Homo sapiens: one gene and its partners. The protein of the gene in region 1 purifies or fractionates together with the protein of each later gene. This does not show direct contact. Each region holds a gene or a part of one and is shown in the gene's direction. Other genes may lie near its edges.

The links.
Region 2: the proteins of DHFR (region 1) and ARHGEF5 purify together in Homo sapiens (affinity purification with mass spectrometry; one large-scale study listed by BioGRID and IntAct). This does not show direct contact.
Region 3: the proteins of DHFR (region 1) and ACTR3 fractionate together in Homo sapiens (co-fractionation; one large-scale study listed by BioGRID). This does not show direct contact.
Region 4: the proteins of DHFR (region 1) and HELZ purify together in Homo sapiens (affinity purification with mass spectrometry; one large-scale study listed by BioGRID and IntAct). This does not show direct contact.
Region 5: the proteins of DHFR (region 1) and NLRP2 purify together in Homo sapiens (affinity purification with mass spectrometry; one large-scale study listed by BioGRID and IntAct). This does not show direct contact.
Region 6: the proteins of DHFR (region 1) and TBC1D2B purify together in Homo sapiens (affinity purification with mass spectrometry; one large-scale study listed by BioGRID and IntAct). This does not show direct contact.
Region 7: the proteins of DHFR (region 1) and DNMBP purify together in Homo sapiens (affinity purification with mass spectrometry; one large-scale study listed by BioGRID and IntAct). This does not show direct contact.

What each region holds. Positions count from the first base shown.
Region 1 is NC_000005.10:80,634,484-80,637,983, reverse strand, and holds part of DHFR (dihydrofolate reductase), read left to right. Parts: coding exon 1-101; intron 102-3,500.
Region 2 is NC_000007.14:144,372,402-144,375,901, forward strand, and holds part of ARHGEF5 (rho guanine nucleotide exchange factor 5), read left to right. Parts: coding exon 1-27; intron 28-281; coding exon 282-356; intron 357-793; coding exon 794-883; intron 884-2,330; coding exon 2,331-2,488; intron 2,489-3,112; coding exon 3,113-3,274; intron 3,275-3,500. UniProt on the Homo sapiens protein: Guanine nucleotide exchange factor which activates Rho GTPases. Strongly activates RHOA. Also strongly activates RHOB, weakly activates RHOC and RHOG and shows no effect on RHOD, RHOV, RHOQ or RAC1.
Region 3 is NC_000002.12:113,928,089-113,931,588, forward strand, and holds part of ACTR3 (actin-related protein 3), read left to right. Parts: intron 1-3,212; coding exon 3,213-3,308; intron 3,309-3,500. UniProt on the Homo sapiens protein: ATP-binding component of the Arp2/3 complex, a multiprotein complex that mediates actin polymerization upon stimulation by nucleation-promoting factor (NPF).
Region 4 is NC_000017.11:67,105,697-67,109,196, reverse strand, and holds part of HELZ (probable helicase with zinc finger domain), read left to right. Parts: coding exon 1-81; intron 82-470; coding exon 471-705; intron 706-1,511; coding exon 1,512-2,028; intron 2,029-3,500. UniProt on the Homo sapiens protein: May act as a helicase that plays a role in RNA metabolism in multiple tissues and organs within the developing embryo.
Region 5 is NC_000019.10:54,976,374-54,979,873, forward strand, and holds part of NLRP2 (NACHT, LRR and PYD domains-containing protein 2), read left to right. Parts: intron 1-1,378; coding exon 1,379-1,450; intron 1,451-3,500. UniProt on the Homo sapiens protein: Suppresses TNF- and CD40-induced NFKB1 activity at the level of the IKK complex, by inhibiting NFKBIA degradation induced by TNF. When associated with PYCARD, activates CASP1, leading to the secretion of mature pro-inflammatory cytokine IL1B.
Region 6 is NC_000015.10:78,071,212-78,074,711, reverse strand, and holds part of TBC1D2B (TBC1 domain family member 2B), read left to right. Parts: intron 1-3,500. UniProt on the Homo sapiens protein: GTPase-activating protein that plays a role in the early steps of endocytosis.
Region 7 is NC_000010.11:99,880,948-99,884,447, reverse strand, and holds part of DNMBP (dynamin-binding protein), read left to right. Parts: intron 1-238; coding exon 239-437; intron 438-3,247; exon of another isoform or gene 3,248-3,345; intron 3,346-3,500. UniProt on the Homo sapiens protein: Plays a critical role as a guanine nucleotide exchange factor (GEF) for CDC42 in several intracellular processes associated with the actin and microtubule cytoskeleton.

The sequences.
Region 1 (3,500 bases):
TTTCCAGAAGTCTAGATGATGCCTTAAAACTTACTGAACAACCAGAATTAGCAAATAAAGTAGACATGGTCTGGATAGTTGGTGGCAGTTCTGTTTATAAGGTAAGTGTAGTTGTTGGTAAATAAAAACAAATGTTCTGTTCTACTTTCAGCTTCCTTGCCATTTAAAGGAAGTGGAAGAAACAGGTATAACTCATTGTCTGAACCTTTAAAAAATTAAGCCATGCGTATAGGAAGCAGCACATTATCTGTACTGTAAATTATTTGTTGTTAGTTGAAATTATTTGTTGTTTGATACTATACAAACTAAATAGAAATGCAAAAATAAATATTTTAGTCTGTATCAGCCTTTTTTATTTATTCATTTATTTTTGAGACAGGGTCTTGCTTTGTCACCCAGGCTAGTGTGCAGTGGCACTGTCTCACTGTAGCCTCGAGCTCCAAGGCCCAAGCAATCCTCCCACCTTTCCTCCCAAGTAGCTGGGATTATAGGCACACACCATCGTGCCCGGCTAATTTTTGTATATTTTGTAGAGTCAGGATTTTGCCATGTTGCCCAGGCCGGTCTTGAACTCCTGGGTTCAGGCAATTCACCTCCCAATGTGCTGGGATTACAGGTGTGAACCACCACACCCAGCCTATTTATCTTTTTAATTGGCAAATAATTGCATATATATATATATATATATATATATATATTATGTACAACATGTTGTTTTGAAATGTGTATACATTGTAGAATGGCTAAATGGAGCTAATTAACATGTATTACCCACTTATTTTGTGTGGTAAGAACACTTAAAGTCTACTCTCTTAGCAATTTTCAAGAATACATTTGTTATTAACTAAAATAATAGATGTTGTACAATAGATCTCTTGAACTTACTCCTCCTATGTAACTGAAATTTTGTATCCTGTGACCAACATCTCCCCAATACCAATCTACTTTCAAATCAAAGAATAATTGATGTTTCCAATTTAAAATCCATTCTAAATCTTTTCCTGAGAATTGTACTTGCATTGCACTGGTTTCTACTCCCTGAATGTACCCTAGATACACTGAGTTATGCCTTTGTCTTTCAGGATGAATATATCTCTTACTGAGAAAGGGTTGGGGCTCTCAGTTGATATACACTAACTAGATGTATATGAATTTATTACAAGTAGAAAACTTCTTCAACCAATTTTTTTTTGTTTTGTTTTTGTTTTTTTGAGATGGAGTCTCACTCTGTCAAGACTCAGTCGCCCAGGCTGGAGTGCAGTGACACGATCTTCGGCTCACTGCAAGCTCCACCTGCCAGATTGACGCCATTCTCCTGCCTCAGCCTCCTGAGTAGCTGGGACTACAGGCGCATGCCACCACACCTGGCTAATTTTTTTGTATTTTTAGTAGAGACGGGGTTTCACTGTGTTAGCCAGGATGGTCTCAATCTCCTGACCTGCTGATCCACGCACCTCGGCCTCCCAAAGTGTTGGGATTACAGGCGTGACCCACTGCGCCCGGCCAATATACCTCTTTTTTAATACCAAATGACTTCCAGCTTTAAAATTTTTGAGGATAACAAATAGAATTCTTTGCCTTTTAAAACACCAATGAAAAATTAACATTTATGAGGAGGAAGAAAAATCTAGTTTCTGCCATGTGGGTGGTCTTGTGGTAAGATATATACAGTGAAATTATTTTAGAAAGAAGAGGTAGGCCGACGCCTGTAATCCCAGCACTTTGGGAGGCCAAGGCGGGTGGATTGCTTGAGGTCAGGATCTAAAAACCAGCTGGGCCAAGATGGTGAAACTCCATCTCTCCTAAAAATACAAAAATTAGTTGTGTGTGGGCGCGGGCCCCTGTAGTCCCAGCTACTTGGGAGGCTGAGGTGGGAAAATCACTTGAACATGGGGGGCAGAGGTTGCAGTAAGCTGAGATCGTGCCACTGCACTCCAGCCTGGGTAACAGAGTGAGACTCTGTCTCAAAAAAAAAAAAAAAAAAAAAAAAAACTCTCAGTTTCTTGGGCTCCTGTTTCTAGAACCTCTTATGTTCCCCATTTGTAATAGAAGAAAAGGGACATTTTTTCTTGATATTTTTATCCAAGTATGAATTTCTTCTAAGAAAACAAGTTATTTATTTTGTTCAGTGCCTACCACACTTTGAATGATTCATTACCATAGTCACTTGAAAATGTATTCTTTAAGCAATATAAGTACGTAAATGCCTTTATATAATATGATAAATCTACATATAGATAAATAGGAAGTAGAACCTTCGAATGGTATTTTTACACCTGCCTCACATCACAACAGCTTGTAGATATCATTCAGGCTTATCTTCCTATGGGCCAAATCGGACCTCCCAGCCTGTTTTTGTAAAGAAAGTTTCAGTGGAACACAGACCCACCCATTCATTCAGTTCTGTCTGTGGCCTGCAAAGGTAGGAAACCCTATGGCCCTCAGAGCCTAAAATATTTACCATCACTCCTTTTACAGAAGGTTTGCCTTGTATAATCAACTTTTTTTTTCTTTTTTTTTGAGACGGAGTTTCGCTCTTTTTGCCCAGGCTGGAGCGCAATGGTGCAGTCTTGGCTCACCGCAACCTCCGCCTCCCGGGTTCAAGTGATTCTCCTGCCTCAGCCTCCCAAGTAGCTGGGATTACAGGCATGCGCCACCACGCCCAGCTAATTTTGTATTTTAAGTAGAGATGGAGTTTCTCCATGTTGGTCGGGCTGGTCTCAAACTCCTGACTTCAGGTGATCCACCTGCCTCGGCCTCCCAAAGTGCTGGGATTACAGACGTAAGCCACTGCAGCCGACTTATAATCAACTTTAATGCAGAACTTCACCACCACAGTCAATCTAATAATCCAGACAGCTCCTAAGTGACTAAGGGGCAGGTAACATAGACAGCATGTGCAGGACAAAGGGATAATTCACGCCCTAGGCAGGACAGAGCAGAATGGCTCAAGATTTCTTCACACTACTTAGAACAGCATGTCATTTAAATCTTATGAATTATTTCTGGAATTTTCCAGTTAATATTTTCAGACCACAGTTGACCATAGATAACAAACTGGAAAGTGAAACTGCAGATAAGGGGGGAGTCTGCATTCCACTTTTTAAATTTTTGGTACAGTAAGAATTAGTAGAGCATCTATTTGGTTGTAGCAAAGATAATAAATGATTTAATATAAAATGATATATTGAAAATAAAAAGTGAAATTTGTTCTGTACCCTTATTTGGAATTTTAAAAATAAACACTTGGATTTGTTGTGTGTGTGTGTGTGTGTGTGTATTTTTCTTTTCTATAAACTATTTGAGATCAAGAATTACTGCTTTGTTAGAATTGCAATTAAGACATACTTTTTATGAATGAGAATTTTAATACACTCATTCTAGGGCAACTTTTTCTGTAGAAATTATCAACCATATTTTAGGCAGTAGTTAGAAAAGTCATGTACAATATAAAGCCAAATGTTAATACAATTGTTAGCACCAAGAAGCAGAAAAATTAC
Region 2 (3,500 bases), on another chromosome or scaffold:
ATCACCCGCCTCAAACTGCTGCTCCAGGTAGGGCAGATGCTACCTTGATCCTCTCCCCTTAACTCAAAGGGATGCCCTCAGGAAGACCCACAACAAAGGACCAACCATTCTTCTGCCAGGTGTCCACATCCTGTCTCCCTGCTGCCCACTGCCTGCTTGCTTGGAAATATTTGCTGCTAAAATGTGGTCCCTGGGCTTCTCCATTCACCAGCCCCCAATCATTTCTTCCTGTTTCCCATTTCTTCCTCCCATCTCACTCCTGCCTACTGTCTGTTCAATAGAACATTCTGAAGAGAACACAGCCTGGCTCCTCGGAGGAGGCAGAGGCCACGAAGGCACACCACGCCCTGGAGCAGGTAGGCAGCCACCACCTCCACTCTGACCCTCTGTGTGTTCTTCTCAGAGAGGTCTTTCCCACCTAGGCCCATGACTCCAGGGAGCATGGGAGGTGGGACCCTGTTGGGAGAGCTCAGCCACCTCCCTGCATCCGCCAAACTTCCAAACATACACACCCCACGGCCACCTCTCCCACGCCGAGCACACTCCACATCAAGGGACTGTGCCCTCTCCACCATCACCCCCCCATTCAGTCTCACTTTTACTCAGTTCAGGAATGTTCTGCCAAGTCATACAAAGTTGCCTAGGACTTGTGCTTGATACTGCCTGCCCAATTCCAGCCTGGGAAAAATGACTGAGGCTGTCATAACCTATTTCCAGATTGCTTGCAAGGGACTCAAAGGTCAAAGCCTCTAACACAGTGCCCTTCCCCTTTCCTCACTCTCTGCACCCCTAGCTGATCCGGGACTGCAATAACAATGTCCAGAGTATGCGACGGACAGAGGAACTAATCTACCTGAGCCAGAAGATTGAGTTTGAGTGCAAAGTGAGTCGGTCCCATGCACCCCATCCCTGCCCATGAACTCCCTTAACATGTCCTGCAGATCACCCCCTAACCTGGAACCACCTTGCTCACATTATCCCCAGCCCCTCCCCTCATTTCTGCCCACCTTCTATTCTGTCCTATTTCTGGGAGGCCTACTTGGGTCTCCAAGACATACTGCTAAGTGAAATGATGAAGGTAAAGAATTGTGTGTATATTATATCACCTTTGGTATAAAAGTGGGAGGATACAAATCTATACAGGTGTCTGCTTGTGTGTGCATAAGGAAACTCTGGAAGGAGAACAAGAAAAAAAGGAACAGTGGTTACCTGAGGACAAGGGGGGTGCATTTGAGAAATGGGCAAATGAGAGAGAACTTTTCAGGATGAGCCTTTATAAAAGAATGTTTTGGTGCTTGATTCATTTATTACTTTATCAAATCTCTTTCTAGTCTAATCAAACCCACATAAGATTGGATCCAAATTTAGAGCCAGCATCCCTCATTGAAATACAAATCTAAAATAGACATTCCACATTCAAATTCCAACTTAGAACAGATACTATCTTTTTTTTTTTTTTGACAGAGTCTCACTCTGTCGCCCCAGGCTAGAGTGCAGTGGTGCGATCTTGGCTCACTGCAACCTCCACCTCCCAGGTTCAAGCGATTCTCATGCCTTGGCCTCCCGAGTAGCTGGGATTCCAGGTCTGCACCACCATGTCTGGCTAATTTTAGTATTTTTAGTAGAGATGGGGTTTCACCATGTTGGCCAAGCTGATCTCCAACTCGTAGCCTCAAGTGATCCACCCACCTCTGCCTTCCAAAGTGCTGGGATTATAGGCGTGAGCCACCACGCTCGTGCTTAGAACACATACTATCTTTACACTCCTGAAAAAGAAGGAAAATCCCTTATTCACATACTAAGCATAGACCACACCCTCATCTTTAACCAAATTCCAGCTCCAAGACGCCCCACCTAGTTCTTCTCACCCCCATGTTTGATTCCAGCTGCTCACATATCTCTGGTATAAAAAATGGAATTGATACCAGACCTGCCTCTAATATTTTATTTTAACCTCTAAGACACATATAGTGTTCACTGACTTGTTCCATCACATACCCTGATTGGACTCTTCCATCCCTCCTTCAGTTCAGGCTTCTAGGGCAGAGCTGTCCCACACACTCACTATCCTGAGTTGGACCATAGGCATCTTCTATTTACCTGAGCATACAACCATGGGAGCCACACACCAGTGGACAGTGGTAGTTAGAGGGTTCAGAGAGAAAGAGAATCTAAGTGATGGGTTATGAGCCAGAAGGCAGATGTGGAAGAGATGCTTGTTCAAGTGGAACTTGCATGGAAGTGGCATGGGGAGGAGGGTGGGACTGGGAGCAAACCTCATGCTTCTCCCATCTGTGACACTGCCTTCTCTCTCTTCCTCTGCCCTGTAGATATTCCCGCTCATTTCTCAGTCACGCTGGCTGGTGAAAAGTGGGGAGCTGACAGCCTTGGAGTTCAGTGCTTCCCCAGGGCTACGAAGGAAGCTGAACACGCGTCCAGTCCACCTGCACCTCTTCAATGACTGTCTGCTGCTGTCTCGGCCCCGAGAGTCAGTGACTGGAGTGGCAGGCCAGGGCACAAGAGGGGAAGGGGATGAGGAAAGAGGGGGGTCTGAAAGGGAGAGAGAAGGGTCATGTTCCTAGAAGAGCCCTTCTCAATGGCTTAACCCATAGAGCCCAGGTCATAGCCTAGAGAAGAGAAAAACAAGCCCAAAGCAAAAAGGGGATCCCATCAAACTGTATCATGAGACCACATAGCAGGACATGTAATATGGTATAGACACAGAGCAAAATGTAGCAAATTAGCTTATCACATTCTCACATGAGTCTATTTGTGGCTTCTTTGGACTGGCCTCAACCTGCTATTCTAGAGATACTTAGCTAATTCCAGAGCTTAAGTCTCTGGTCTTAAGGTTCTTGGGAAATGTATATAAATTCCATCTCTTCACCTCTTTAAAGTGGTAATGTATCCACTGCACTAGGTGTGTGGTTTGCCAGACTAGGACAAATCCCTGAGGACCCTGGAGCTACCATCTTGGGAGCAAGTTAGGACCATCTTATGGTTTTTGTGGGAATTTGCAGGCTGTAGATGTAGGGATTTCGAACCCAAGGTTATGAGGGTAGGTGAAGTATGGAAACTCTAGAATCAGGTTGAAAAGATTTGTATTTTGCAGGGGTAGCCGATTCCTGGTATTTGACCATGCTCCCTTCTCCTCCATTCGGGGGGAAAAGTGTGAAATGAAGCTACATGGACCTCACAAAAACCTGTTCCGACTCTTTCTGCGGCAGAACACTCAGGGCGCCCAGGCCGAGTTCCTCTTCCGCACGGAGACTCAGTGAGATGGGGCTGGGCAGAGGAGCTGGGGGTGGGGGAAGATGGGCAGCCGAGAAAAGAAGTGAGACCAAGGCAGAAAATGTGTCCAGAAGACAGCCACAGCCTCATTTAGCCCATTCTGGACTGGGGACCACCATAGAGAAATTCAGACTCCTAAAACTAATGGATAACTTGCAGGAGATTGGGGTGGGAGAGGGTACAAAGTCACCACCGAGGCTTAGCATCTA
Region 3 (3,500 bases), on another chromosome or scaffold:
AAAAATGAGAATTTCCCTTTTTACCTTTTCTCTCCCTCAACACAAAATACCTATCCTTTCCCACTCCTCGCATTGTAGTTACATCACAATTTTTGGTTAAATCAATATTCTGTGTCTTTCGGTGATTGTGATGGACTATAAAGTTGAAAGAACCATACTATGGACACTCATACACCCACAATCTAGATTCGATGATTAACCTTAACATTTGGCTATAATTGCTTCATGACGTCTATCCATCTTTCACTTCATTTTAGTTTTTAAATCACTTCAAAGTGAGTTGCAAATGGGAGTCATTTGACCCCTAAATACTTTAGCACGTATTTCATCAACTAGAGCTATCATTTGTGTATGGTTATTCTTTTCATATAAAATTTACATATCATAAAATCACCGGTCTGCACCATTCAGTGGATTTTGACCAGGGTTTGGCAAACTTTCTAAGGGAGCAGATAGCAAATATTTTTGGCTTTGCAGGGGTTATAGTCCCTGAGGAAACTTAATGAGAACTTTTTATACAATGGTCCCTGTCACAGCTACTCAGCTGTGCTGTTGTAGCATGTTAGCAGCCATAGACAATACTTAAATTCATAGGTATGTCTGTGTTCCAATAAATTTTTTTTTTTTACCAAAACAGGTGGTGGGCTGTATTTGACCTGCAGGATGCATGATGTGATTTGTCCAATCTTTGTCAGTTACATACATCTGTGTAACCTAAACTCTTACCAAGATATAGAGAAATTACTATCAGCGTGGAAAGTTTTCTCATGCCCTTTTGTAATTAATCTCTGCCCCCGTGCCCTAGTGACAACCACTGTTTCTTTTTCATCTGAGATTAGCTTTGCCCATGTTTGAGTGTCAAATAATGGAATCATGCAATATGTGCATTTTGGTGAAACACTTTTACTTAGCATAATCTGGAGATTGAATTATGTTGCATATACTGGTGATTTGTTGCTTTTTGTTGCTGGGTAGTATTCCATTGTATAAATTTGCCTCACTTTATCCATTTTCCTGTTGATGAATACCTGGGCTATTTTTGTTTTTTTTTTGTTTTTGTTTTTGTTTTTTTAAGACAGGGTTTTGCTCTGTTGCTCAGGCTGGAATGCAGTGGATCAATCATGGCTCATTGCAGTGTTGACCTCCCAGCTCAAACAGTTCTCCCAGCTCAGATTCCTGAGTAGCTAGGACACACAGGCCCGGGCCACCACACCTGGGTAATGTGTTCTGGTTTAGAGATGGAGTCTCACTTTGTCACCCAGGCTGGTCTTGAACTCCTGGGCTCCAAGTGATCCTCCCGCCATGGCCTCTCAAAGTGCTGCCACCATGCCTGGCTTAGTTCTAGTTTTTGGTTATAATAAAATAATTTGACCATTGTGAACCTTCTTCTACAAGACTTTTTGTGGACATATGTTTTCATTTCTCTTGTCTAAATACGTAAGTATGGAATTGCAGCGTCATAGGGTAGGTACCTGATTGGTTTTTTAGGGAAACTCATGGGAACTTTTCCCAAGATGGTGAACCTTTTTGCACACCCCCCAGTGATGCATTAGTAATCTGCTTGCTCTATTCAAGATTTGGCTTATCAATCTTTTATACTTTTTTTTTGAGACAGTCTTGCTCTGTCACCCAGGCTGGAGTGCAGTGGTGTGATCTTGGCTCACTGAAACCTCCCCGCCTCCCAGGTTTAAGGGATTCTTGTGCCTCAGCCTCCTGAGTAGCTGGGATTACAGGCATGCACCACCACACCTGGCTAACTTTTGTAATTTTAGTAGAGACAGGATTTTGCCATGTTGGCCAGGCTGGTCTTGAACTTCTAGTCTCAAGTAATCTGCCCACCTCGGCCTCCCAAAGTGCTGGGATTATAGATGTGAGCCACTGCGCTGCTAGCTTGTCAGTCTTTAAAATTTTAGCCGTTCTGGTGGGTGTGTACGATTTTTCATTTGCTTTTAATTTTAATTTTCATTTTCTGATAATTATGTTGAGCAGTCTTTCATGTACGATTGTTATTATTAGCTATTTGTATATTTTCCTTTGTGGGGTCCTCTGATTATCTTTTATGTAGATTTTTTTTCTTGGAGTTTATAATTTCACTGCCTTGGTTTTTAGTTTACTTAATTTTGTATGTATTCATCAGTAAATTATCTCCAGACTTTTAAACATAGCTCCAGAACTCTTCTAAAGAAGTTTAAACACCACAGGGAGTTTAGCTTATAAAGGTTTTATGTAAGGTAACAGTATACTTAGTTGTTTTGCTTTATATTTCTTTTGAAATAATAATTTTAAAAATATTTAATTTTTAATGGATTCAAGTTTTATCACTTTTTCCCTTTGTGATTTGTACTTCAGAAATTTAAGGAGTTATTCCTACCTTAAGGTCAAAAAGAGAATTCTGTGTCTTTTTTAAATTTAAAAATTTTTCTTTTACATTTAAGTATTTGAGATACCTATTAGATTGCCAGTCAGACTCACAAGAATCAGAGGTCTTACCCAGTGTTAATCTTTAAAAATTGAAACAGTTTAAGTGATCATGAGGCATAGGTGAAATATGAAGTCCAAGACTGCCAGATCTCTGAGTCCTTCCTTGCCTCTTTAGAGTGTGTTCTGTCCCAGACTTAACCTGTGAGGTTTCTAAGTGATGTATACAGTCACATAAACAGAAGAGTGCTCTGCAAACATCTTGATTCTATGCTCTTAACAGGTAAATTAATATAACATTTTTCAGAAAGCTGTACCATTAGATCTGTAGAATCTCGGCTTGTTTACTGTAATCCTATATACTTCGGGGACATTCATCTAAAAGCATTACTTAGATGAGGGCTCTCCCACTGGCAAATACCATTGATGTTTTTTCTGGAGGTTTGTCATTACCATATTTAAAGGATGATTTGACTGGACCACCTTTTCCCTACCTCCAACCCTCTCTCTCCCTGCTTCATTTCTTTTTAATGTTTAATCTGTATAAGTGGTATGATATAGGCATTCAGGGTATTTTTTTTTTAAAATGTGAATTACCATACTGTTTTCATATATGTATGGATGTTTGAATTCTCTATAGTTTTCCTTTGATCTCTGTGTCTGTCTTTCTACTTGTAAATTTAATGCATTTTAAATAAAATGTTTGAAATAAATTACTTCTCATTTAAAAATTGTCAAGAAAGTTATCAAAATAATCTGATATTATCTATTTAAAATGTTATTTATTTCAATAGACTGAACCTCCATTGAATACTCCAGAAAACAGGGAATATACTGCTGAAATAATGTTTGAGTCCTTCAATGTTCCAGGCTTGTACATTGCTGTGCAGGTAAGCAAGTTCATACTTTCTAAGTTTGATTCTTACATTTTAACCTAGTTTAATTTGCTGCCTAAAATACGTACTTTTTTTTTTTTTCTGCAAAGGTTTAAACATAATGTCAAAGCATGTTATACTTCTCTCCTGAATTGTTAATTTAGAAGTAATATTATGGGAAGTGGAGATATTTAGTCAGGAAAAGAG
Region 4 (3,500 bases), on another chromosome or scaffold:
AACCCGGCCCCATTCTTCCTTCACATCTGAATAGCTTCATTGATGAGAACCCCTCGGGATTACCTATAGGGGAGGCTTTAGGTAAGTTCTATTACTGCCAGATGTGAAAATTCAGAGATTACTTAACATGACTTGGACTGTATAATATCATTTTGGGTTAAGATTGAATTGTTTCTTCAAATAATGCTAGCAAAACCCCCCCATTTAGTGTGATAATCAGAAACTAGTTCTAAATGCTGTATGATAGTATCCAGTGGATGTCAGGATCATCATTATGTAAGTGAGGAAGAGTTGTCATCATCATCACCATAACTGATTTCTGGCAAATTTAGAAAACATTTACTTCTTACCAAAACCAAATTTGTAGCTACGTCCTTTGTCTTTGTGGAGAAAATATGTTAGTAAAAAACTTTAAATAATGAACTTGAAACCCCAAATTCATAAAAAATTTTTCACAAATATTTTTGCAGATCGTATACATGGGAGTGTCGCTCTGGAAACATTAAGGCAGCAGCAGGCACGGTTCCAGCAGTGGAGCGAGCATCATGCCTTTCTCAGTCAGGGCAGCGCTCCATACCCACACCATCACCATCCTCACCTCCAGCATCTTCCTCAGCCGCCCCTGGGATTACATCAGCCGCCAGTGAGGGCAGACTGGAAGCTCACCAGCAGTGCCGAAGATGAAGTGGAGACCACATACTCAAGGTATTCCAGCGGACTGAAAATAGCCCCTGGAATGCGACCCCCTCACTGTTCTCTTTTTTGACTGTAGTCCTTTTAGCTTCAAGCTGGAATATTGCCTCAGAGAAATTGGATGCTGGCCTTCCAAGCACACGCTACACAGTTCTCTTGTTGACTCTAAAATACAGAAAACTCATTTAGAAGTAACTCTTCTACAAATTTAGGCATGGATGATCTACTATGGGTTGGAAATTAACTTGTTCCCTTACTTTGTGGTCTTTTCTGCGAGAGAAACATACCATCACTGTGAGCAGCTTTTTTTATTTAGTAGTAATACTTGCAAAGAATGAATAAAGACAGGAGTAAATTCGTGGTTAAAAGCTAAAAATTATATCATTAATTATTTTTATGGTGGCACAGAATTCTACATTCCTATAATTCCAGCTACATATGAGTATTTGGTCCTAACTCTAAGCTTGTTTTTGTGGCCAGTGTCACATGAATGCTCTGAAGTGTTTCCTAATCCCTTCTGAATAAGGTCCACCATCATGGTGACCTTTTATAACTTCCAGTTGTCAAAGCTGTATAGAGACAAGGACAGATGTTTTTAATACAATGGGAACAGAAAGAAATCAGGTAATTGAGCATATTTAATTTCTTCACCTCAGCATCTATTGAGTGTTAATGCTTACATCTGAGATGAATTAATGCCAGTTCTAGTTATTAGTACTATGATTTTGTTTGTTGAAAATACATGTGTAGTTGACTAAGCTTTCCTTAATGTGATGGAGCCTTTTGTTTTCTCCTCATATTTTATTGTTTTCATGTAGGTTTCAAGACTTAATCAGAGAACTGTCTCATCGTGATCAAAGTGAAACACGGGAACTAGCTGAAATGCCACCACCTCAATCAAGACTTTTGCAATATAGACAAGTACAGAGTAGAAGCCCACCAGCAGTCCCATCTCCCCCATCCAGTACAGACCACAGTAGCCACTTTTCTAACTTTAATGATAACAGCAGAGACATTGAAGTAGCCAGCAACCCAGCATTTCCACAGCGCCTCCCACCCCAGATATTCAACTCACCTTTCTCGTTGCCATCTGAACACCTTGCCCCTCCTCCCTTGAAATACCTGGCACCTGATGGAGCATGGACTTTTGCTAACTTGCAACAGAATCACCTAATGGGGCCAGGTTTTCCCTATGGCCTACCTCCATTGCCTCACAGGCCACCGCAGAACCCTTTTGTACAAATACAGAATCATCAACATGCTATTGGTCAAGAGCCATTTCACCCATTGTCATCTCGAACAGTATCTTCTTCTTCGCTCCCTAGCTTAGAAGAGGTAAATGTCTTCTTATTTTCCTTTTGTTATTAGCTGATTGTGAAAAATATCAGTATTTATTGATTTGATAATAGGAAGGCACAGATCTTATTGAATTTAACAGCGTATTAAAGATAATCCTTTCTTGGGAATTATTTTAATTGCCACCCTCCTATTGTATTTCAGGTTTTGTAAAGTGGACACTTTTGTTGAAACATGAAGCCCCTTAAAAGTCTTTTATTGCTGTTTAAAGAAAATATTGAATATCTGAGGACTCTATTCAAGGAGCTTTGTCTTTTTTTAATCTGAGGAAATGGCTTTTAGTGATTCTTCTTTTCGCTTTAAGTTACATGTGTTAATTATAAATTTGTTAATGAGAACTTTCCAAAGATGCTGGCTTTTCAGCCAGTGCCAGCTCCAAGTGCTGTGCTCCTTCTCCTGCCACTCAGCCTGGTGCTTTGTTAGACCCAGGGACTCTGATTCCCAAATATCAGAATTTGCAGATTTTTAACATAAAATTGACTGTGCTAAACTAAGCATTTTAAGTTAAACTGAATTTTATCTTAAAATACTTAGATATTTCTGCCGGGTGCAGTGGCTCACGCTTGTAATCCCAGCACTTGGGGAGGCCGAGGCGGGCAGATCACGAGGTCAGGAGATCGAGACCATCCTGGCTAACACGGTGAAACCCCGTCTCTACTAAAAATAGAAAAAATTAGCTGGGCGTGGTGGCGGGCGCCTGTAGTCCCAGCTACTCGGGAGGCTGAGGCAGGAGAATGGCGTGAACCCGGGAGGCTGAGCTTGCAGTGAGCCAAGATATGCCACTGCACTCCAGCGTGGGCGACAGAGCAAGACTCTGTCTCAAAAAAAAAAATAAATAAATAAAGTAAAATACTTAGATATTTCTAAAGAGCATCTTTATGGACTTTTTTTTCCTATGAAAAACTTAGTAATTCCAGGTTATAAAACTTCCAAAGCAGTACCATGTGGTGTAGGCTACAAAAATGTCTAGCTGATCCCATTAAATTTGCAGTGATTAAAGATAAAAATGTGTAAAGCCGGTTGTAGTCATATCAGACAGAGACATCTTAAATCAGGATAAAGATTTCTAATTTTGATATATGAAAAATACTTTTTTGATATTAGCTTCATTTTGGCAGTTTCAGAATGATATCTAAAGGCCATTAGAAATAATTGATTCACATTTTACAAGTTGCCTGCTATAGATGCTAATTAAAAGTCAAGATTCATAGGGAAAGCTGTATGTCTTATTTGTAGGGATTTAGAGGCAGTCTGTTCAAATTGTCCCAGTATTCATTGATTGGCTCATTCTGTATAGCTGTCATTAAAACAACTTACTGTGATTTTAGGCTCTTAAAGTAAGTTAGAAGCACAATAAAGATGAATTGGTATCTACATATATGTATTGTGAGGATCTAGAATTTTGGAACCATACTTTACAAAAATTTGGCACACATCTGACAGTCTTTCAG
Region 5 (3,500 bases), on another chromosome or scaffold:
CAGAGTCTTGCTCTGTCACCCAGGCTGGAGTGCAGTGGTACAATCTCACTGCAGCCTCCGCCTCCCAGGTTCAAGTGATTCTCCTGCCTTAGCCTCCCAAGTAGCTGGGATTACAGGCGCCTACCACCACGTCTGGCTAATTTTTGTATTTTTAGTAGAGACAGGGTTTCACCATGTTGGCCAGGCTGGTCTCAAACTGCTGACCTCAAATGAACTGTCTGCCTCAGCCTCACAAAGTACTGGGATTACAGGCATGAGCCACCTCACCTGGTGGTGAAGACTCTAAAGGCTCTTCTCAGATCAGCCTTTGTCCTGAATTTCACATGCCCGTGTCCAGTTCCCTCCCCAGCATCTTTTCAGGAGTTCCATGGACTCACCTCTTCATTATCCAGGGTTAAGCTGCAGATATTGTTATTAGGATTCCACCTTGTTCTCTCTCTTTTTTTTTTTTTTTTTGATACGGAGTCTCGCTTGCTCTTTTGCCAGGCTGAAGTGCAGTGGAGCGATCTTGGCTCACTGCAATCTCCGCCTCCTGGGTTCAAGCAATTCCCTTGCCTCAGCCTCGCAAGTAGCTGGGACTTACAGGTAACACACCACCATGCCCGGCTAATTTTTTGTTTTAGTAGAGACGGGGCTTCACCATGTTGGCCGGGATGGTCTCGATCTCCTGACCTCATGATCCGCCTGCCTTGGCCTCCCAAAGTGTTGGGTTACAGGCATGAGCCACCATGCCCGGCTGATTCCACCTTGTTCTTACATTCTTTCCCAGTTCATTTTAAATTTATCTACCTCATCAGAAACTAGGGGGTTAGGCCTGGCAGGCAGATCACCTGAGGTTGGGAGTTCGAGACCAGCCTGACCAACGTAGAGAAACCCTGTCTGTACTAAAAATACAAAATTAGCCAGGTATGGTGGCACATTCCTGTAATCCCAGCTACTCCGGAGGCCGAGGCAGGAGAATCACTTGAACCCAGGAGGCGGAGGTTGCAGTGAGCCGACATCACACCATTGCATTCCAGCCTGGGCAACAAGAGCAAAACTACATCTCAAAAAAAAAGAAAAACTAGGCAGTTAATCCTCAAAGCCTTTCCAGTGGCCTTATGCGTGAGTAGTTTGTGTGTGTGTGTGTGTGTGTGTGTGTGTGTGTGTGTCTTTCACACCATGTGTTCTGAACTACTTAGGAATTCTCACCAGAAAGGCACATAAACCTGGGATCATGGCCTAATGTACTTTCACTTTTACATCCAGTACCTTATCAACGTCCTTTTTAGTACCTAATCTAGGCTTCACTACTGAGACTCAGGGGTCCAACTTGAGCCATCTTGGAGTCCCACTGCCAGCACAGCAACAGGCCTGTAATGCCGCCCTTTTTCTCCAGGGATAACACGGAAAGAACGACCACCTCTAGACGTGGACGAAATGCTGGAGCGCTTCAAAACAGAAGCACAAGGTGGGTGTCAGGACCTCCAATGTTGGAGTCAGCTGAGGAAGCCCCCCGTTCTTGCTGCTATCTCCTGTTCCTTTGAAGAACCCCATCTCTCTCCAATCTTTTCCTCCACTATTCTTAATGTGCCCACTGTCTCCTGGAGAATGCCAACCTCCCTTCCGTAAGAATAGAGGGAAGAACGAACGTTGCAGAGAATTAGAACTCAGTTTGTAGAAAGTTAGGAGCACAGCGCAGAGAGTTTTTGTTTTTGTTTTTGTTTTGAGACAGTTTCTCTGTTGGCCAGGTTGGAATGCAATGGCGCGATCTCGGCTCACTGTAACCTCCACCTCCCAGGTTCAAGCGATTCTCCTGATTCTCCTGACTCAGCCTCCTGAGTAGCTGGGATTATAGGCACCTGCCACCACACCCAGCTAATTTTTTTTTTTTTTTTTGAGACGAAGTCTTGTTCTTGTCACCCAGGCTGGAGTATAGTGGCACCATCCCTGTTCACTGCAACCTCCGCCTCCCAGATTCAAGTGATTGTCCTGTCTCAGCCTCCTGAGTAGCTGGGACTACAGGTGCATGCCACCACGCCCAGCTAATTTTTTTTTGTACTTTTAGTAGAGACAGGTTTCACCATCTCATTCAGGGTGGTCTCAAACTCCTGACCTCAAGAGATCTGCTCCACCCACCCCCAAGTCTCCCGAAGTGCTGGGATTACAGGCGAGAGCCACCGTACCCGGCCTTCTTTAAATTATTTAAAAGTTGACAGGTGGCCAGGTGTGGTGGCTCTCACCTATAATCTCCCAGCACTTTGGGAGGCTGAGGCGGGTGGATCAAGAGATCGAGACCATCCTGGCCAACATGGTGAAACCCAACTCTACTAAAAACACAAAAATTAGCCGGGTGTGGTGGCACCCGCCTGTAGTCCCAGCTACTCAGGAGGCTGAGGCAGGAGAATCGCTTGAACCCGGGAGGTGGAGGTTGCAGTGAGCCAAGATTGTGCCACTGCACTCCAGCCTGGCAACAGTGCGAGACTCCATCTTAAAAAAAAAAAAAAAAAATTGACAGGCATAAATGTATTTATGGTACATTGCTCAGACAACTTTAATATAAACAACTTACAGAGAAAATTGAGTCTTTTGGGTAGGTGACTTGCCTGAGCTGACTTTGTGATAGGTTTTTTCTGTTTTTTTTGTTTTTGAAATAGAGTCTCACTCTGTCATGCAGGCTGGAGTGCAGTGGCCCCATCTTGGCTCACTGCAATCTCTGCCTCCTGGGTTCAAGGGGTCTTCCTGCCACAGCCTCCCCAGGTGCTGGGACTATAGGTGCCCACCACTATGCCTGGCTAACTTTTGTGTTTTTAGTACAGATGGGGTTTCAACAGGGTAGCCAGGTTGGTCTAGAACTCCTGACCTCAAGTGATCCACCTACCTCGGTCTCCTAAAGTGCTGGGATTACAGCTGTGAACCACCGCACCTAGCCTGTGATCAGTTTCAGATCAGCCTTGCTTACTCCACATTCCCTCTTATCTTCCTGGTAGCATTTTTGTTTTTTCTTGAGAAAGAGTTTTGCCCTTGTCGCCCAGGCTAGAGTGCAATGGTGTGATCTCGGCTCGCCACAACCTCCACCTCCCAGGTTCAAGTGATTCTGCCTCAGCCTCCCGAGTAGCTGGGATCATAGGCGCCCACCACCACATCTGGCTAATTTTTGCATTTGTTAGTTTTATTTTTAGTAGACAGGGTTTCACCATGTTGGGCAGGCTGGTCTTGAACTCCTGACCTCAGGTGATCCACCCACTTCGGCCTCCCAAAGTGCTGGGATTACAGGCATGAGCCACCGTACCTAGCCCACATTGACTTTTGATACAGCAAGTATTTCTTGCTATGGCTCTGTATAATAGAGGTGAGTAACTTGGTTGAAGGAATTGTTTGCCCTGTTCATCTCTCTAGACACGGCCAATGTCATTCCTGGCACACAATCTTTTTTTTTCTTGAGATGGAGTCTCACTCTGTTGCCCAGACTGGAGTGCAGTGGTGCAATCTTGGCCCACTGCAACCTCTGCTACCCAGGT
Region 6 (3,500 bases), on another chromosome or scaffold:
ATAAGGATGTATGCTCTTTCGCGAGGGGAAGAGCTTTATGGGGCTGATGAGCTCTGGTTTCCAGGTAGTGGTTGCCTGTGATGGGAAGAGGGAGGATGTGATTGGGAATGGGTGCCTCAGGGCTTCTCCTGTTTTGCAGTGTTTTATTTCTTGGACTGGGTCATAGGTATATCAGTGTTTGTCCTATTATGCTATCCATCTTTTTGTAGGTTCAGAATATTTCTTTTTTTAAAGAAAGGAAATACATTTTCCTTTGGGTTACTGACAATGGAGGAATATTTTGACATGTAAAATTAAATTGGTCACAGAATAAGATAGTACCGAGTGTTGGCTGTATACAACAATGGGAATGGAAATCAGGCAAGGCTTTCTGGAAGAAGGGAGGAGAAGGCCGGGCGTGGTGGCTCATGCCTGTAATCCCAGCACTTTGGGAGGCCGAGGCGAGTGGATCACTTGAGGTCAGGAGTTCGAGACCAGCCTGGCCAATATGGTGAAACCCCATCTCTACTAAAAATACAAAAATTGGCTGGGCATGGTGGCGCACGCTGTAGTCCCAGCTGCTCGCGAGGCTGAGGCAGGAGAATTGCATGAACCCGGGAGGCGGAGGTTGCAGTGAGCCGAGATCACACCACTGCACTCCAGCCTGAGCGACAGAGTGAGACTCCACCTTAAAAACAAACAAACAAACAAACAAACAAGCAAAAAACACCCCGACTCTAAAACCCTGCTCCCTTTTTTTTTTTGAAACAGAGTCTTGCTGTGTCGCCCAGGCTGGAGTGCAGTGGCACAGTCTCTGCTAACTGCAACCTCTGGCTCCCGGGTTCAAGCAATTCTCCTGCCTCAGCCTTCCGAGCTGAGGGACTATAGGCGCGTGCCACCGCTCCCAGCTAATTTTTGTATTTTTAGTAGAGACGGGGTTTCACCATATTGGCCAGGCTGGTCTCGAACTCCTGACCTCGTGATCCACCTGCCTCTGCCTCTCAAAGTGCTGGGGTTACAGATATGAGCCACCGCACCCAGCCAGGCGTGTGTTTTAAGAAAATTAAATTTCATTGTACAGTTATTTCTTTTGAGCTGTAGGAGTAAAATCTTTATGGTGTAAGTATGGAAATTACCAATTTATCTTCCTTTTCGTCTTTCAAATGCAAGAACTGATTCCCTTAAGCCTTAATGTTTCACTTTAGGGCTGCCCAGCCATAGAGGAGACCCTGATTTCTAAGGATTTTAAGTTAGGATTTAGCCCTGCTCAGACTTCAGCTAGTGGTATATAATTTTACAAATACCATTTCTTATCACAGAGGGTTAAAAAGTAAAGAAAAATCAGCACTTTTCTTATTCTATTATCATATGTTTTTCTTATTTAAAAGTGTCTTTCAGCTCTCTCTGGAGAAGCTGTGGTTTTGTTGGGCTTTTTCAAAATGTTTTTCTATGTAAGTCTTAATGAAAGCTGATATAGGAATTTCTTGGGAAACTCCTCTATTCCCAAACTTAGGGATTTGATCTGGTGCCTTATGAGGTAATAGAGGCTAGAGAGGGGATGTGATTTTGCCAACATCATGAAGCTAGACTCAGACCCTCTCTGAAAGTAGAGGCTCCAGGAATAGTGAATGTCTAAAATGTGTAGTATCTAATTGTATTGTCTGTTCTGACAAGTCTGCTTTTTTTTGACTTTGTTGGGGATCGGATAAGGCGTAGTAGTAGTCTTTCCTTCTATTGCATTTAATATCTGTCCTTTTTGGATAGTGGGTATCACAAGGGAACATTTTACTGCCCAGTTCTTTACCAGGATGCCTAGTACCTTTTGCTGGACATGTCTGGAAACTGCTGCAAGGGTCTAGCAGAGGCTGATGCTTCCTGTGTGCGTCTCTCTCTGTGTGTAGGGGTGCTGGAGGCTTCTCACAGAGCTTTACTGGAATCTGAGGCACTTAGGGGAAGGAGAGCATGTGACTGACCGAGGGTGAAGCTTAAACAGCCTTGATCTTCCAGATCTCTGCAGACTTTGGAGCAAGAGAGCGTCATCAGACCGTCAGCAAATGAATTCCTCCCTCCGTAGGTGCTTGGTGCTAAATAGACATGTGTACTGGTTTCTGAGCCACACGTAACTGAATAGCTGTGTACCCCTATTCTTAACCACTTTTGTGGGAATGCACATTCCCTGGTGTTGAAATTTCTCTTAATGACAAACATTTGTCGGCTTGGGTAATCATATTGTTTTCAGTGCAAAATAGATGTGGTGAACCAGCCTCCTTTGCTGTTTGGTTCTTCTAAGCTGTTCTGCCCTAGGGCATCTGCTCAGTCTTGAAGCATTATTTAACTCTTTAAGTTATGGGAATTTAACTTTTCATGGCTTTCCAATTAGTAAGTTCCTTCAAGGCAAGTCCAGTATTGTGCTTGTGATATCACAGTGGCATTCCGTCTCCCTCTCCCACTGCCTCACACAGTCCTCATTGCAGGGGAGTCTCCATCCTATTTCCTGCTAACCAGAGGGTAAGCTCCCTAAGGACTGTGTGTATCCTCAGCTCCTGCAACAGTATCTGGCACAAAGGAGACATGCTATAAACTAGTGTTTGTGTTCCTGAAAAATTCGTATGTTGAAGTGCCAGCTCCCAGTGTGATGATATTTAGAGGTGGGGCCTTTGGGAGGTAATTAACTCATGAGGGTGGAGCCTTCACGAATGGGATTAGTGCCTTTATAAAAAGAGACCCTGGAGAGATGATCTCCCCTTCCACCTATGAGGATACAGCAAAAAGGCATTCCTTTGCAAACCAGGAAGAGGGCCCCCGCCAGGAACCAAATTGACCAGCACCTTGATTTTGGACATTCCAGCCTTCAGAACTGAGTAAATTTCTGTTGTTTAAGCCACTTAGTCTGTGGTGTTTTTGTTATAACAGCCTGAACCGACTAAGGTAAGGTGCCCAGGTAGACATTTGTTGCATGAATGAATAGAAAATGGTCACCCAGTAAGCACTGGTTTTGGTGTGAGCCCTGACCCTTTAGAAGTGATCAGCCAGAACTCCCAAATATACAGGTGTATTACATGCCATTCTTGCCTCATGTCATGGAGGTGGCAGCCATTCAGTGAATGCCCACTGAATTTAACAGACATCAGGAATCCAAAAGGGGGTTATGACTCACCCTTCCCCAGAGGAGAGAGCTTACAGTCAGTTCCATATTTTCGGGTCTCATATATTTCATGCCCATGGTCAGGACTCCAAGGACACTGTTATAGCAGAGGCAAACTTTTTATGTAAAGGGCCACATACTATTTTAGGTTTTGCGCACTCTGCCATATCTGTCACTATGCTGTTGTAGTACAGAAACAACCACAGAATGAGTATAGCTGTGTTTTAACTTTTAGTTATGGACTCTGAAATTTGGATTTCATATAATTTTCACATTTCGCAAAATATTCTTTTGATTTTTTTCAACCATTTAAAAATGTTAGCTGGGCACAGTGGCTCACTCCTGTAATCCCAGCACTTTGGGAGGCCGAAATGGG
Region 7 (3,500 bases), on another chromosome or scaffold:
GTAAGAATAGGTGTGTGTTAAATTTTCTTAACTATAAAGGCATCAAACATTGCCTAAGGGCTCTTGATTTTTACCTAGCCACATGGGCTGGCTTCATCACAAAAACATCTGATGGGAGTGAGATGGGCAGTGACTGACTGTCCCTGCCTCATTTCTGAGACTGGCCACATGTTGGGATGAAATATGGCTGCTGGGGTAGTGGCCACTGAGAGATTTTTGTTAACGTCTTACCTTTCAGCCAAGTTACATGCTACAGTCAGAAGAACTCCGGGCCTCCCTCCTGGCCAGGTATCCCCCTGAAAAACTCTTCCAGGCAGAACGGAACTTCAATGCTGCTCAAGACTTGGATGTCTCACTTTTGGAAGGTGACCTGGTGGGTGTGATTAAGAAAAAAGACCCCATGGGCAGCCAGAACCGCTGGCTGATTGACAATGGAGGTAAGAATTTTAAGCAGCAGAGGACTGTAACTGGAAAAAAAAAATAGTAGTTTTGGCTGCACCCGAATCTGGACTAGGCCAGGAAAAAAAAGCAAAAAGTATCTTTGATTAAGGGGAAAAATAACCTGAAAAATAACCTTAACCTTCTCTAGAGAGTGAAGATCATTACTGAAACAAAACCTCTTTTTGTTTTGACAAATTCCAGAGGAGACACCGTTGCTTATCATGCAAGCTCTTGCCATATCTTACAGCACTTACAGGCAGGAAGTCCTGCCTCACGGAATCCTGTTCCTTCTTAGCCTGTTCCCAGTATGCCACAAAATAAGCTGCCCTCTTTTCAAATTTTTTTTTTTTTTTTTTTTTTTTTTTTTTGTGGCAGTCTTGCTCTGTTATCCAGGCTGGAGTGCAGTGGCACAATCATAGCTTATTACTCCTGGGTTCAAGGGATCCTCCTGTCCTAGCTGGGACTACAGGTATGCCATCATGCCCAGCTAATTTTTTAATAATTTTATAGATATTACGTCTTGCCATGTTGTCCAGGCTGGTCTCCAACTTCTAGGCTCAAGCCGTCCTCCTGCCTGGACCTCCTAAAATGCTGGGATTATAGGTGTGAGCCACCGCACCCAGCACCTCTTCCAGTTTCCATGAATTTGTCTTGTGGAAATTAAAAACCTGTGGGATTTCATTTGCTTTCTTCTCCCCATGACAGTTTTACCTCATGACTATTTAGGGAATTACTTTAAAAACAGCTTACAACTTTTTTGGAGGGAGAGTGATTTACAGAATTTAAGTAAGTGTACAAGGGATAATACTGATCTGTAATCCCTTTTTCCAAAATCCAAAAAGCTCTAAAAACACTTTTGCCAAAACCTGAATGAAGGTGATGTGAGACTATTTATAATTGTAACTTATCCTTTTGGTGTGAATAGTCATGTGTATGTATTTTTCATTTTTATTATTTTTTAAGACAGGGTCTAGCTCTGTCACCCAGGCTAGAGTGCAGCAGCACGATCTCAGCTCACTGCAACCTCTGCCTTCAAGCGATTCTCCTGCCTCAGCCTCACAAGTAGCACGCACCACCACACCTGGCTAACTGTTTGTATTTTTTGTAGAGACGGGGTTTCACCATGTTGACCAGGCTGGTCTCCAACTCCTAACCTCAGGTGTTCCATCCCGCCTTGACCTTCCAAAGTGCCAGGATTACAAGCATGAGCCACGGCACCTGGCCTTATTTTTTTTTAAATGCTTGATTGCAATCTGATTCAGCCAAGAGGTTGCTCACATCATGGGTGGATGACTACATCTCCAACATGAATGACACAAAAACATCAGAACTTTCCTATTTGCAATTATGTGAGATACTTTAAGTTTTAGTTTATAACTGACACATACTTGTTCATATCTATGGGGTACGGTGCGATAATTTTGAGATAGGGTCTAGCTTTGTCACCCAGGCTGGATTGTAGGGGCACAATCTTGGCTCACTGCAGCCTCCACCTCCCAGGCTCAAGCAATCCTCCTGTCTCGGCCTCCTGAGTAGCTGGGACCAGAGGCATGCGTGACCATGCCCAGTTAATTTTATTTTAGTAGAGACAGTCTCCCTGTGTTGCCCAGGCTATAAACTTGTCATTTCTTTGCAGAGATATCATTCAGAATCCTTGGCTTCTAGCCATCTTGAAATATACATTATCATTAGCTATAGTAACCTTACTGTGCAATAGAACACCAGAGCTTATTTCTCCTAACTTTGTACCTGTTGAGCAACCTCTCCCCAGACTCACCTCCCCTTCCACCACCCCCAGCCTCTGGTATCTAGCATTCTACTCTCAACCTCTATGAGATCAACTTGTCTAGATTCCACGTGAATGAGATTATATGGTATTTGTCTTTCTGCGCCTGGCTCATTTCACTTAACGTGTCCTCCAGGTTCAACCATGTGGCCGCAAATGACAGGATCTCATTCTGAATATTCATTAACAGAATTGATTACGGGGTGCTGACCCTGCTGGGGGGTTTTACAAAATATGTAGTATGGGTACTTGACTACCTTCCCAGAATTAAAAAGAATCTGAATTCCAAAACATATCTGGCCCTAAGCATTTTAGGTAGGGATTGTGGTCCCTATCTAGACAGACATTATGTATTCACCACCCAGAACTGAAAAATGTCACATTTCTTGGTTTCTTTAAAAGCATCTTGTGGATTTTTTTTCTCCCCACTTCTGCTTACACAGAACGAGAGATTAAAAGTGGGACACGAAGGACAGAGGATGGAGCCTGTTAGGGTGACATCAGGTGACAGCTACTGCTGGGGTCAGAGACAGATGGACCTAAAGTCCCAAGCTGTTTAAGAAACTGCTCCATCCTTCAGTTTTTATCTACTCAAACTTGAGAAGTGGTAGCAGGAAGCCACAGTATTCAGATCAGCTGTCAGGTACAGGAAATGCATCAAAGATCAATAGAGTAATGGCCATTGTTCTCATGGAGGCTACATACTCTGGGTCTGTGCCTTGACAGTGTTATGAAAAATTGTCACGTGGATGCTCACGCAATCCCTAATTTATACTTGAGTTTTAGCTGAAAGCCCCCTTGGTCATCTTGGGCAATTTATTAAAGTGAACCATGTGCAGTACACGTTACGTGTATATTCTAACAAACAGTTTCCTACGTTAGAACATCCTTCCAGTATATCCAGACTCTCAGAGCAAAGGATTCACGTGTCCTGGTGGGAAAGAGGGCAGGGAGGTCTATGGAGGGGCTTCTTGAGCTGAGGCTTTTTTTTTGAGACGGAGTTTCGTTCTTGTTGCCCAGGTTGGAGTGCAATGGCATGGTCTTGGCTCACTGCAACATCTGGCTCCTGGGTTCAAGCGATTCTCCTGCCTTAGCCTCCTGAGTAGCTGGGATTACAGGTGCGCACCACCACATCCGGCTAATATTTTCGTATTTTTAATAGAGACGGGGCTTCACCATGTTGGCCAGGCTGGTTGTGAACTCCTGACCTCTGGTGATCTGCCCTCCTCAGCCACCCAAAGTGCCTGGATTACAGGTATGAGCCACTGTACCC